2 linked regions of the Homo sapiens genome follow. The protein of the gene in region 1 interacts with the protein of each later gene in a biochemical or structural test. Each region holds a gene or a part of one and is shown on either strand. Other genes may lie near its edges. The genes, in order: KDM8 and HEATR5B.

Region 1 (7,278 bases):
TCAGCCTCCCGAGTAGCTGGGATTATAGGCGTGGACCACCACGCTGGCTAATTTTTGTATTTTTATTAGAGATGGGTTTTCACCATGTTGGCCAGGCTGGTCTCGAGCTCCTGACCTCAGGTCATCCACCCTCCTCAGCCTCCCAAAGTGCTAGGATGACAGGCGTGAGCGATGCACGTGGCCTTAATATAAGACTTTATAAACAGCAATTCAGTGAGGAGTTCTGGGAAGCCAATCAATAAAGCCAGGCCATAAGGCTACTCTGGCTAGTCCTTTCCTCTAGAAAACCTCTTGATACAACAAGAAGCCTTTTTATCAGACCAGTATATGGGAAATGCCAGAAGGCTGATGAGCCTGGACCTGAGGCCATTCAGAAAGGCAGTGACCTGTGGCTCGCACCTGACCTTCCCAGGAGGGCCATCTCAAGTGGTTGGTGGTGTGAAGGCTGCTTCTCATAGCCCATGAGGCCAGTGACCCTGGAAGATTGTTTCATACAGCCAGCAAGAGAGTGTTTCCCCAGCCAGACCAAGACTCCTTCTGTAAGGCCATTTTGCATGGCTAACAGGAGCCAATGTGAGGCTGCTCCCAGCGGGGTAGATGGACACAACAAACAATTCTTTCCTGGCACAATGAAGAAACCACAGATCGATTTGTAAAACTAAGACAAAATCTGACTTCACCTGGTCCTCAGACAAGCCCCCATCTATAGGAAGGCCAGTTTTTAAAACAAGTTACAAGGGCCGGGCGTGGTGGCTCACACCTGTAATCCCGGCACTTTAGGAGGCTGAGGTGGGTGGATCACTTGTGGTCAGGAGTTGGAGACCAGCCTGGCCAACATGGCGAAACCCCGTCTCTACTAAAAATACAAAAATTAGTCGGGCGTGATGGCATGCGTGCCTGTGGTCCCAGCTACTCAGAGGCTGAGGCAGGAGAATCACTTGAACCTGGGAGGTGGAGTTTGCAGTGAGCCGAGATCGCATCACTGCACTCCAGACTGGGTGACAGAGCAAGACTCCATCTCACAAAACTGCTTTGGAAGACTGCTTCCTATACCAGGATGTGGCTGTTTGATATGGTAACTACATAAAAGGCCAAATCATGAGAGGTTTGGGGAAGCCTATGCAACAAGGCAGAAGACTGATGCGGCCAGAATGCCACTTCACCATGCTGCCAACATAAGGCCTTGTAGGAGGCTATAGTTTTATTTTTTGAAACAGGGTCTCACTCTGTCACCCAGATGGGAGTGCAGAGGCACAAACACAGTTCACTTGCAGCCTTAAACTCCTGAGCTCAAGCAATCTTCCTGCTTCAGCTCCCGGAGTAGCTGGGGCTACAGGTGTGTGCCACCATGACCAGCTAACTAATTTTTTAATTGTTTTTAGAGACAGGGTCTTTACATGTTGCCCAGGCTGGTCTCGAATTCTTGGGCTCAAGCAGTCCTCCTGTTTCAGACTCCCGAGTAGCTGGGATTATAGGTGCCCTGCTGGGGGATAGTGTATAATAATCTTGAGGCCTTTGGGGAGGCCATTTCAAGTGGCTTATACAGAGGCAATCTGAAAAGCCATTTTGAAAACAAACTTATACAGCCATCCTGAAGCCTCTGTCTCTGGAAAACCATCATATATTGTCAACGTAAGTATCTCTGAAGGCCTTTTGATAAGGCCGTTCATTGAAGAACTCTGCATTAAAGAATAATCATAAGGCTATTTCATGTGGCCAAGAGCAGATAGTTTTGTACAGCCAACTCACAGTATTAGGAGGCCATCTTTCCCAGAAGGCTGTGTCCATTGGCCTTCAACATGAGGTCTCCAAGGCCGATTTGCAAAGTAGCAGATAGGCCGCCTATGAAGACCAAACATGAGGCCACCCTGGGAGGCCAGGTGACAAAGCAGACACGGGGCCACTGGGGGAACCTGGCTACAAAGCCGCACACGTGAGGCCACCTTGAGAAGCTGGCTTGGTAAGGCTGATAGGCGCCCTGTGAGGGGCCGTTTTATAAGGTCACCCTGAAACACCAATTTACAAAGCCCGTAATCTGCATTGCAGAGAACAGGTTTATAGCCCATTTGAAACCCTCTGGGAGGCTGTTTTCTAAGGCCATCAAGAGACAGGTTTACAAAGCTGGTACATAGAGCCCCAGTGGAAGCCAGTTTTATAGTAGGGCAATAAATGGTCTCCTGGGAGGCCTTTCCACTGGCCTTTATGAGAAGCCAGGATATGAGGCCCCTGAGGTCTTTTGGATGCTCAAGATGAGACTTCTCCATGTTGCTCTATAAGATTCATGTAAGCCACACACGGGATGAGCCAGGAGGCCACCCAGGGAGGCCAGGGATGGGCCCATGTGGTGTCTTGTGCTGGCCTAGTGGATAAGTCCATGCTGGAAATTGGACTGTGAAACGCTCCAAGAAGGCTGTGAATGAGGCCAACACAAGCCTTCTAGGAGGCTAGAGATAGAACCCACCCTGGCAGGCTGGGGCTCTCTGAGCCCTACCATACCCTGAGCTTGCTAGAAAGAAAGTTCATTGTGAACCAAGAATGGAAATGAACTCATTATAAGCTCAGCCCTGTGGATACAAAGTCCAAAGAGCTCACCCTTGAAGGCAATGAGTGTTCTGGGCAGACACTGCCACTTACTGTGTAGTTTGGCACAAATTGCTTAACCTCGAAATCTCAGTTTATTCATCTGTAAAACTCCCATCATAGGATTGCAAGGGACGTGTTAATCTATGTCAAGCATGCAGCATTGACATGGCGCACAGGAGAGGGTGCTGAGATCAGCCAGAATTTAAGCCCTGCTTCTGCACAAATGATTGACCGTAGGCCTTGGGGCAAGTCACTTCATTTTTGTTTTTTTGTTTTAATTTGAGTCAGGATCTTGCTCTGTCACCCAGGCTGGTGGCATGATCTCGGCTTACTGCAACCTTTGCCCCCAGGCTTAAGTGATCCCACCACCTTTAATCTCCTGAGTAGCTGGGACCACAGGCATGTACCGCCGTGCCCAACTAATTTTTGTATTTTTTGTAGAGACGGCGTCTTGCCATGTTGGCCAGGCTGGTCTTGAATTCCTGAGCTCAAGTGATCCAATTGCCTCGGCCTCCCAAAGTGCTGGGATTACAGGCGTGAGCCACCATGCCGGCCTTCTCGAATACTTTTCAAAGCCTGGCACTCCTGAGTGACTGCCATGAGGCAGACTCTGCTTTTAGGCTCTGGGAAACGTAGGGGAATGAGCTACGTTCTTGCCCTGGTGGAGCTGGCAGTGCAGTGTTGGATAGACACACGTGTAAGCAGGTGTTTTCATACATCCTGACGAGTACTGTAAGAGAAGCTCAAGGGCTGCAGGAACACAGAACACTGTTGGAGAGTCTTGGCAGGCCTCACATAGGGATATTTAAGATGGGCTTTAAAGGTTGGGTAGGAGTTTGCCAGGCAGCGGAGGGGTATGGGAGGCACTGCAGATGAGGACAATACACGTTCCTTTCTGAACAGACGTTTATCCAGTGCTTGCTGAGTACCAGGTGTTGCGCCAGGCCCTGAAGATACAGTGGTGACCCCAGACAGATGAGGGCCCTCCCCTCCAGAGCTTCTGCCCAACAGAGAAGACTGCTGTTGAAAAATCCTCGCAGATGAGATGCAGGAAGCTGCGGGAATGCACAGGGGATCAGGTCTGTCCTGGTGTCTAACTCTTGTTTCTCTCCACCTCCCCAGGCACGGGACTGAACCAGCTGGTGGTGGCCCGATGGCTGGAGACACCCACTGCCCCGCAGAGCCCCTGGCCAGAGAAGGCACTTTATGGGAGGCCCTCAGGGCGCTCCTGCCGCACAGTAAAGAAGACCTGAAGTTGGACCTCGGGGAGAAAGTGGAGAGGAGCGTGGTGACATTGTTGCAGCGAGCCACTGAGCTCTTCTACGAGGGCAGGAGGGACGAGTGTCTGCAGAGCAGCGAGGTGATCCTGGACTACTCCTGGGAGAAGCTCAACACGGGCACATGGCAGGACGTAGACAAAGACTGGCGCCGGGTCTACGCCATCGGCTGCCTCCTGAAAGCCCTGTGTCTGTGCCAGGCACCTGAGGATGCCAACACTGTGGCCGCAGCCCTGCGGGTCTGTGACATGGGCCTGCTGATGGGGGCAGCCATCCTGGGGGACATCCTTCTTAAAGTCGCTGCCATCCTCCAGACACACCTCCCTGGAAAGAGGCCTGCCCGTGGCTCCCTCCCAGAGCAACCCTGCACAAAGGTATGTGGGGGAGATTCTCCCCAAGCACACTAGCCATCCAGCAACCCTGTTGTTCTAGAAATTCCGAGTCATCTCTCCCCTGGGGTGAGGCCTCGTGGCCTGCAACCCCTCTGGTGGAAAACAGCATTGCCATTGATTTTGGATTTCTGTTTGTTTTTGGAAGCAGGGTCCCGTTCTGTCGCCCAGGCTGGAGTGCAGTAGTGTGATCTCGGCTCCTTGCAGCCTCCACTTCCTGGACTCAAGCAATCCTTCTGCCTCAGCCTCCTTAGTAGCTGGAACTATGGGTGCATGGCACCACACCCAGCTAATTTTTTTAGTTTCTTATTTATTTTTTATTTTTTGTAGAGATAGGGTCTCATGTTTCTCAGGCTAATCTGGAACTCCTGGCCTAAAGCAGTCCTCCTGTCGTGGCCTCCCGAAGCACTGAGATTACAGGTGTGAGCCACCGTGCTCAGCCCCCATTGACTTTGGAAATGGAACAGCTCCATTCATTTTCTCTCTTTTTTTTTTTTTTTTTTGCAAAGGCAGCGCCCTTTCAGCAGAGAGGCAGCAGAGAAACTTCGTGGTTCCTGAGGGAAACAGCTTAAAGCGATTGTGTGGGTGAGAGCTGCAGCCAGCGGCAGCCCGTTTCTTTCAGCTTCTTGGTGGGCTTGCTGAAGTCTCACCCAGGCGAGGCGATACCTCCAGCTGCTCCTGTCTCTCTGCTCCTGGGTTTGGATGAGATACTACAACTAGCTGATGTCTGTTTTGGGGTCAATCTCTCCCACCCCTTGGGTCTATGTGCCTGTTCCAAAGAGCACCCCCAGGAACAGAGCATGGTTTACTCTGAAGGCTTCAGGTCCTGGTGCCAACACACAGGCCTCACTTGCAACACACCCAAGCAAGTCACTTAACCTCCTTTGAGCCTCGGTTTCCTTGTCTGTAGAGTGGCAGAGTACTGACCCACAGAAAGAAATGACTAAGACTGTACTAGACACTTGGTAGTGGAATTATGGGATGTTTCTGACATTTTTCTAAATGCTTTGCTATGTTTTCCGAATTTCCTACAATGCATATTATTATTATTATTATTTTTGAGACGGAGTCTCACTCTGTCACCCCGGCTGGAGTGCAGTGGCGCAATCTCAGCTCCCTGCAACCTCTGCCTCCCAGGTTCAAATGATTCTCCTGCCTCAGTCTCCCAAGTAGCTGGGATTATAGGCACCCACCACCACGCCCGGCAATTTTTGTATTTTTAATAGAGACAGGGTTTCACCATGTTGGCCAGGCTTGTCTGGACCTCAGGTGATCCACCCACCTCAGCCTCCTAAGTGCTGGGATTACAGGCGTGAGCCACAAATTATTTTTATATAAGAAAAATGCAAGTGGTTGACACTAAACACACAGGCATGTAACCAAAATAAAAGAAAATCAAATAAAGGGAGAAGAAAATTTTTCCACAAATATGTCAGACAATGAATATCTCTATTACGTAAGGAATGGTACAAATCAATAGGGAAAAAATCTTGAGCCCCAGGAGGTAGAAATCCAGGAACCTGAACAGACTGTTCACAAGAAGGAAATAGATCTGTTAAACAAATGTGCAGGAGAATGTTCAGCCTCACCTCTGGTTAAAAAAATAAAAGAGAGAGATGCAAATAGCAAAACAGCATTTCATCTTTGGCTGTTAAGTTAGCAAACAAGGCTTCATATGATACCCGGTGTTGCCAAGGGCACCATGTGGCCAAGGGCATGGGGTGTGGGTTGCTCTTTTGTTTCATTTTTTTTACAGACAGGGTCTTGCCCAGTCACCCACGCTGGAGTGCAGTGGCACAATCATAGCTCTCTGCAGGCCGGGCATGGTGGCTCACGCCTATAATCCCAGCACTTTGGGAGGCTGAGGCCGGCAGATCACCTGAGGTCAAGAGTTCGAGACCAGCCTGGCCCACATGGTGAAACCTCATATCTACTAAAAATACAAAAATTTGCTGGGCGTCCTGGCACATGCCTGTAATCCCAGCTACTCTGCAGGCTGAGGCAGGAGAATTGTTTGAACCCGTGAGGCAGAGGTTGTAGTGAGCCGAGATTGTGCCACCGCACTCCAGCCTGGGCAACAGAGCAAGACTCGGTCTCAATAAATAAATAAATAAATAAAACATAGCTCACTGCAGCCTCGACCTCCTAGGCTTAGGTGATTTCTCCTACCTCAGCTTCCCGAGTGGCTGGGACTACAGGCATGTACCACCACGCCGAGCTTTTTAAATTTTTTCTAGAGCCAGAGGTTTCTCTATGTTGCCCAGGCTCGTTTCAAACTCCTGGGCTCAAGCAGTCCTTCCACCTTGGTCTCCCAAAGTGCTGGGATTACAGGTATGAGCCAGTGTGGCTGGCCATTTCCCAGCAGGTTCACACCTGTGGACACTGAGGTTCTCAAGCAGCAAGTAACTTACTCAGGTCACCCAGCTGGGAGATGGTTAAGGAAATGATGGTGCAGCCACTCCTAAGAAACTGTAAGGACCGGGTGGCCATGTGGAAACTGCTTTTGATAAATGATTGGAGGGGAGAGGCAGGGCTGCTGCTTCATCATTGCTGTTACTCCCAGTGGGTCAGAGATATTTTGCGTGTGTGTGTGTGTGTGTGTGTGTGTGTGTGTGTGTGTGTGTGTAAGATGGGAAAAGAATAGGAATGAGAAGACCTTAAGATGGTGAAGTTGGAGATAGTAAGTTTTCCTTTATTGCAGAATGTCTGTGAAAGCAGTTTATAATGAAACAAACATTTTTGATGAAATGGTTAAGAAAAAAACCACCTTGATCTCATGAGGAGCAAATAGTAATAGTAGCAGTAATAATAACAAACGTTGTCTATTGTTGTTACTGGTACTCTTGACAGCTAAGCTCTCCTACCCCTGACACAGGTTCCTGGTGGAATACCTCAAATGTCGACTTCCTGAGGTGGTTGCTATTTTGTTCTGTTTTGATTTTAAACAGAAAGCAAGGGCGGACCATGGTTTGATTCCAGATGTGAAGTTAGAAAAAACAGTCCCCCGGCTGCACCGTCCGTCCCTCCAG
Region 2 (7,278 bases), on another chromosome or scaffold:
CCACCACGCCCAGCCAGTAAACTAGTTTTAAATGTATAGAGCTAACTGAAAATTATGAATCGTGAATTAAAGTGTTTAAATTAATGAGATATCATTCCTTAAATATGCTAAAATAGTCATCTGTCTTAGATTCACAACTTAAAGAATAATTTGCACATTGATTCATTGAGGAAATGTTTAGTGCCAGAAACACCGCGTCAAATGGTGGGAGTAAAATAGCAAGCCAGATGCATACAGCACCTATCCTCAGGGAGCTTAAAGTTTAGCAATCAAAAGCTAGAGTTTATGCATTTCCAAGTCCAGAAATACCTAAAAACAAGAGTTATTTGGCCAGGCATGGTAGCTCATGCCTGTAATCCCAGCACTTTGGGAGGCCAAGATGGGTGGATCACTTGAGGCCAGGAGTTCTTCAAAAACAGCCTGCCCAACATGGCGAAACCCTGTCTCTATTAAAAAATACAAAAATTAATCAGGCGTGGTGGCGTACACCTGTAGTCCCAGCTACTCAGGAGGGTGAGTTGGGAGGACTGCTTGAACCCAGGAGGCAGAGGTTGTAGTCAGCTGAGATGGCACCACCGCACTCCAGCCTGGACAACAGAGCAAGACTCTGTCTCAAAAAAAAAAATTTAATTATAGTCTTCAATTTATTAATCCATTATATCCTAGTCTGTATTATGTATTTTATAGTCTATTAATTAATAATGAATGCAAAAAAGAAAGTTTTACTATCATTTAAAGGTTCTTAATGTTAAGGTCATAAATTCGTTATTTGATTTTTTTTTAAATCCTGAAAGCAGAATTAAATATAATGATACGTATTGGGGATTTGTGGGCCAGAATGTATTCTCAATTAGTAGTTTGGCAAGCGATCTTTGGTTGTCTCTTGTCAAACACATTTCGATTCTAGTGGAAGCTAAAAGGTTGGGGTAGCAGGCAGCAAGGTTAATTAATGGGAACTTACAGAAACATTCCAGTAAGAGGTAACTTAAGGCATTTTCCTTATAGATTCATTTTCTGGTCAGTAATTTAACAGATACCTCCAATATATTGGAACACTTAAAGTAGCAATGGTAATAAAGTAATAATAGCTGTTAACATTTATTGAATGTGTATTATGGGCAGCATTGTGTTAAATTCTTTATATGCACTGACTTTTTAATCACCACAGTACCGTTTGAAATAGGCATGTAAGCCCATTAACAGATAAGGAAATTGGGACAGAAAAATTGAACATCTTGCTCAATGTCACATAACTAATATAACTAGTGGAATTGGGATTTGAACCCGAGTCTTCTTTCTGCAGTATCTGTGCTTTTATACACTGGATTGCTGCTGCTTGCTAAAATTAGGTTGTATTCCTGGAAGCAAAGATGTATCTCAGTATATATTTTAGCATTATTATAAAGCTATTAAACAACATTTTTAAGTCACTTCAGTGTTTAGTTCTACAAGTTTTCTATTGAGAAATAACTGCATAGTTTTTAACACTCGGACATCAACTGGTATGGCTAAAATCATAAATTGTATAGACCAAAAAAATCATACCACAATTCATTTCTCCTATGTCAAAGACATGATTTTGTGTTTCCAGAAGCAGTAGTGAATGACACAAGTGGAGAAAACAAATCTGGCGCAGCAGACATTGCAGCAAGCCAGCATGTGATGGTCTGTGCCCTCCAGGAACTCGGGAGCCTGGTGCAGAGCTTGAATGCCACCGCATCCCCTCTTATTCAAGAAGCATCTATAGGTATGACATTCAGTTACTTGCTAGTATGTGTTTCCACTTTTTTCAGTCATAAGTGTGATTGATATTTAATTCCTGATTAGTTGCTTATCATCATCATTAGCACTTCAGATCATCAGGTTTTACTTAAATTAATATTCATTGTGATAGGCTGGGCGTGGTGGCTCGTGCCTATAATCCTAGCACTTTGGGAGGCCCTGGTGGGCAGGTCACTTGAGATCGGGAGTTCAAGACCATCCTGGTCAACATGGTGAAAGTCTGTCTCTACTAAAAATACAGAAATTAGCCAGCTGTGGTGACACGTGCCTGTAATCTACTTGGGAGGCTGAGGCAGGAGAATTGCTTAAGCCCAGGAGGCATAGGTTGCAGTGAGCCGAAATCATGCCACTGCATTCCAGCCTGGGGGACAAAGTGAGTCTCAAAAAAAAAAAAAGTTTCCTTGTAAAGAATATTGAATTAAATGGTTAAATAAAGTTTTGGAACAGAAATCAAAAGCAATTGTGGTAGTTTTTTTATAAAAATTGACTAAAATTTGTTGAAGACTTCTATTAAATTTTACATCAATATTGAATATAATTGTACTATGTTCTTCATAGAAAATGTTCCTTTGAAGTACTCTACTGTATGTAGTTTTAGGCAAAGTTGTGGATCTATATGTGTGAAAGCTTGGTGATTGTCATTTCAGTTATTGTTTTTTAGATAGTATTTGAGTTTCTGAAATCATTTGACTTCATTAAAGAGTAATATTTTGAGTATTTCTTGTTTAGGGCTTTTGGAGATTGTGACTTCAGTGCTGCTTCATCCAAGCATGGCTGCCCGACTTGCTGCTGCATGGTGTTTGCGCTGTGTGGCTGTGGCATTACCTTTCCAGCTGACACCATTTCTAGACAGGTGTGCAGAACGGCTCAACAACTTGAAGACCTCACCAGAAGCTGTCAGTGGATATAGTTTTGCAATGGCTGCTTTGTTAGGTGGAGTACATCAGTGTCCTTTGGGCATTCCTCATGCCAAAGGAAAGGTATGACGGAGATCCTAGACTTGGGAATGCTGTCACGTGGGCTTTGGTCTTTATAGGAACGCTGCTGTGTTTAGTGTTGAACAGGGTGGTCAAATAACAGTTGTACTATGTTATCATAAAACATAGTGTTCTTACTATGGTGTTAACAGACCCTATTATAATTTGATATTTAATTCTGATGTAAGGATAATAGATTTTGTCCAAGTCTAGTAACATGTTATAATTTATTTTAGAGGGAAAGAGAAAAAAAACAGCCTAGGCAACATAGTGAGACCCCATCATTACAAAAAATAAAAAAAGTTAGCCAACTTCATGGTCCTAGCTACTGGGGAGGATGGGTTGGAAGGATCACTTGAGCCCAGGAGTTTGAGGTTACAGTGAGCTATGAACATGCCACTGTCCTTCAGCCTGGGTGACAGACCAAGACCTACCCTGTCTCAAAAAAAAAAAAAAAAAAAAACCCAACCTTAGATATAGTAATTATTTGAAAGTCAGAGCTTTTCTTTCAGCTTTTAGAAATAAAAGTTCACATTGCTATATATTCAAAGATGTCAGGATAATACGCTATTGTAATATTTAGCATTTTGATAATGTTTAGTAAAAATTGAGTGGTTTTAATAAATCATGGCCGGGCATGATGGCTCATACCTGTAATCCCAGCACTTTGAGAGGCCGAGGCAGGTGGATCATTTGAGATCAGGAGTTTGACACCAGCCTGGTTAACATGGTGAAACCTTGTCTCTACTAAAAATACAGAAAAATTAGCCGGGCATTGTGGCCCATGCCTGTAATCCCAGCTACTTGGGAGGCTGAGGCAGGAGAATCACTTGAACCCAGGAGGCGGAGGTTGCAGTGAGCTGAGGTTGCACCACTGCATTCCAGCCTGGGTGACAGAGAAAGACTCCGTCTCAAAAAATAAAATAAAATAAAAAATATGAGTAGCTTTTTTTTCTCCTTTCTTTCTGTTGTATACTACTATCATGGTTTTCTTCTCAGTAATCTTAAGTGTTTATATAAATATTATTTGAAACTTTACATAGGCAGATTGGGGCTAGAGTTTTAAATTTTGATTTTTTTTCTGGGACATTAAGCCCATGTCCATTCATAGCAGTTGCATAGCTACCGATGAAATCCAGACTTCCCTCTCACTTTGTCATATCGTTGCTTCCTCATTCTCATCTTCCTCAGACTTTCCATCTTCCCCACACGTCCCATCTTCCTCATACCACTTTCATATTTTACATTTGCCCAGAGACCCTTAGGGACTACCCAGTACTCAGAGAGTAAAATATAATCTCCTTTGTCTGGTAAACTGGTATCTTATAATTTGACTTCATTCCGCCGTTCATTCAAATTTCCTGTTGCTCTAATTAGACTAGTTATCTTCCTTCCTTCCCTGGCCTTTTTCAGCTTCGAAGCCTTTGCTCTGCTAACCTCTTAGAGTTTCATCTCCCCTCTTATTCAGCTGCACCAAATTTAAGTCTATACTAGCCATTCTGTGTGGATGTTAATACAGCAAAGTACCGAGAACAGTGCTAGCCCATGTGACCACTAAATAAATGCTGTCATTATTAGCACTATTATTCCACATTCAAAGATTTGTTGAACTCCTATTATGCATCTACCATTGAGCTAACCTTGCCTGGGCGTGGTGGCTCAGACCTGTAATCCCAATGCCTAGGGAGGCCGAGGCTGGAGGATCACTTTAGGTCAGAAGTTTGAGACCAACCTGGGAAACATAGTGAGACCCTGTCATACAAAAAATAAAAAATGAAATTTTTAAAATTTTCCAAGTATGTTGGCATACACTTGTAGTCCTACCTACTCAGGAGGCTGAGGTAGGAGGATCCCTTGAGCCCAGGAATTCCAGGTTACACCGAGCTATGATTGTGCCACTGCACCCCAGCCTGGGTGACAGAGTGAAACCCTGTCTCTAAAAAACAAACAAATAAGTAAGCTAATCTTTTGGAGCTTACAGTCTTAGAAGACACAGGAAAAATGAGAAGTGGATTTGTCACATGATGAAATGACAAAGTAGTAGCATAGATGCTGTATTAACTTATTTTATCCTTGCAAGGCTGAGATAGGCATTCCTATTATTTCTGTTTTACCAGTGATGGAACTAAGCAGTGCTAAATGAGAATGCGAGTAAATGGCAGAGATGGCATTTGGCCCTAGAGCTTGTCCTTAACTACTACACTGTTCTGGGTCTCTTCAGAGTCATCAGTGCAATCAAGACTAACCAGGTCTTGATGTTGCCTCTTTCAAAAACATGCTAATAACACGAGAGGACAACTTCTTTTTTTTTTGGAGACGGAGTCTCGCTCTGTCACCCAGGCTGGAGTGCAGTAGTGCAATCTCTGCTCACTGCAACCTCCGCCTCCCCAGTTCAAGCAATTCTCCTGCCTCAGCCTCCCAAATAGCTGGGACTACAGGTGCCCACCACCATGCCTGGCTAATTTTTTTGTATTTTTTGGTAGAGACAGGGTTTCACCGTGTTGCCCAGGCTGGTTTTGAACTCCTGAGCTCAGGCAATCTGCCTGCCTCAGCCTCCCAAAGTGCTAGGATTACAGGCATGAGCCACCGCATCCAGCCAACAACTTCTTTTAAGTAATGTATGCTAGTTATCTGTTTCCTTATTTAATTTAACTTGTTTGAATTAAAATCCAATTCTAAACTTTTCTTGCAGATGGTAGTTAGTATTGCTGAAGATCTTTTACGAACTGCTGCCCAAAATAGCAGGCTATCTTTACAGCGCACCCAAGCTGGCTGGCTTTTACTTGGAGCACTTATGACTTTAGGTATAATTATATTTGAGTAGGATTTTTGTCACGCTATAACTGTCAGTAGCCTGTAAAGCAAATTTAATTTAAAAGTGTTAAGCTTCACATTCTGGATTTTCATTGAAGTTGTAAAAATGGTGTAAAGATGTTTTCCTCGTCATTTGCTAGTAGATTTCTCTTTTTGGTAATTATTGCTTAAGTACATTTAATGAGAAAGTTGTTAGCAAAGTTTCACCTTTACCATCAGAATAACCTTTGTCTACCTGATGAGTTTAGTGTTTAAAAGAGATGAAAATATGAGGGAAAATTTCATACCCTAAGTGAAAACCAGCAGTGTGATTTTAGAAGAGTGGTAAAGTCACATTTAATTGGTATTGTTAGTGCTGCTTTTCTGGGGTAACCCTTAATGTGTTTCACTCTTAAGTAGTGTGACAAATCTGCATTGTAGGCAAAATTTAACATTGTACATAGTACAAAAATACCTATTATTGTGATGGGGTATGTTCATATTTTAGTTCATATGTTTAGCTGCTGCTGTAAAAAGTGTGTGCATATATGTACTACAAAGTTATGACACAGATCTAAGCATCTATCTGTTGGAAATTATACTTTGACCTACTTTTCTTTTCTGAAGAAAACAAAAAGTTGCAACTCATTTCCAGAAGTTTATGTTAAGTATGTTCAGTGGTATGTTAAATGAATTTTTTAGCAATGTAAATATAGATTCCTAGGTCTGAATATATTGCCTTTCCATGAAACTAAATTAACCACATAAATTGCCCCCAAAACTAAGGAATATGTATCTGTATGTGTGTGTGAGTGGGTATATTTGTTTATATACATATGTATATGAAAAAGACCTCATAGAATGTGTCTCAGATATATTTTATTGATAATATGCAATCCACCATTCTCAATACAGTTGGGTTATCCTTTAAAAATTGCTTTTTGTGTATTTTATGTTTGGATTCTAAAAATATTGACAGTTTAAGGTGAATTTTGTTATGCTTTGATCTATATTTTAATCAGTGAATAAAGGTTGAAAATAATGTAATTTTAGAGATAAAAATAGAGTGAAATAACAGATATTGTTAAACATCAGTATTTTACTCTATTTTCATCTCTAAAATTACATAAAGTTTGTGTTGGGCTCATTTTGCTTGACACTTGTTTGTAAGGTATGTTACATATACATGGTTTTGTATTCTCATTTTCTTGGCTAGGACCATCTGTCGTTCGTTACCATCTGCCCAAGATGTTGTTATTGTGGCGAAATGTTTTCCCACGTTCCTTAAAGGAATTGGAAGCTGAGAAGGCCCGAGGCGATTCTTTTACCTGGCAGGTAACTTTGGAAGGTCGTGCTGGAGCTCTATGTGGTAAGAACTGAAAGGATTGTGCTTCACAATATTATGACATAACTAAAATATTTGTAAAGTAAAAGAAAAATCACTATTTTATAGTTTTTTATTTTACTAGGTAATGATAAATTCATAGGCTTTTAGATTTAAATAGAAACTTTATAAATGATCCACTTCAGTTTGCTAATTTTGTAATAAAAATGAAACCCAGACTCTGAAAAAGTGTTTAGACCTGGTGGTTAGACAGGAACTAGAACCCAGGCCTCTTATTCCCACTTGTTGCTATCTTACCTGTCAAAGAAGCACTGAGTCACCATGTATAAAAAAAAGAAAAAATACCCAACAGCTATTTAAAGAAAAAGAAACTCAGGATTA

The links.
Region 2: the proteins of KDM8 (region 1) and HEATR5B form a complex in vitro, tested with the Homo sapiens proteins (one study listed by BioGRID).

The regions. Positions count from the first base shown.
Region 1 is NC_000016.10:27,206,388-27,213,665, forward strand, and holds part of KDM8 (bifunctional peptidase and arginyl-hydroxylase JMJD5), read left to right. Parts: intron 1-3,705; coding exon of another isoform or gene 3,706-3,736; coding exon 3,737-4,234; intron 4,235-4,758; exon of another isoform or gene 4,759-4,834; intron 4,835-7,197; coding exon 7,198-7,278. UniProt on the Homo sapiens protein: Bifunctional enzyme that acts both as an endopeptidase and 2-oxoglutarate-dependent monooxygenase.
Region 2 is NC_000002.12:37,060,224-37,067,501, reverse strand, and holds part of HEATR5B (HEAT repeat-containing protein 5B), read left to right. Parts: intron 1-1,591; coding exon 1,592-1,747; intron 1,748-2,511; coding exon 2,512-2,762; intron 2,763-5,451; coding exon 5,452-5,563; intron 5,564-6,768; coding exon 6,769-6,921; intron 6,922-7,278.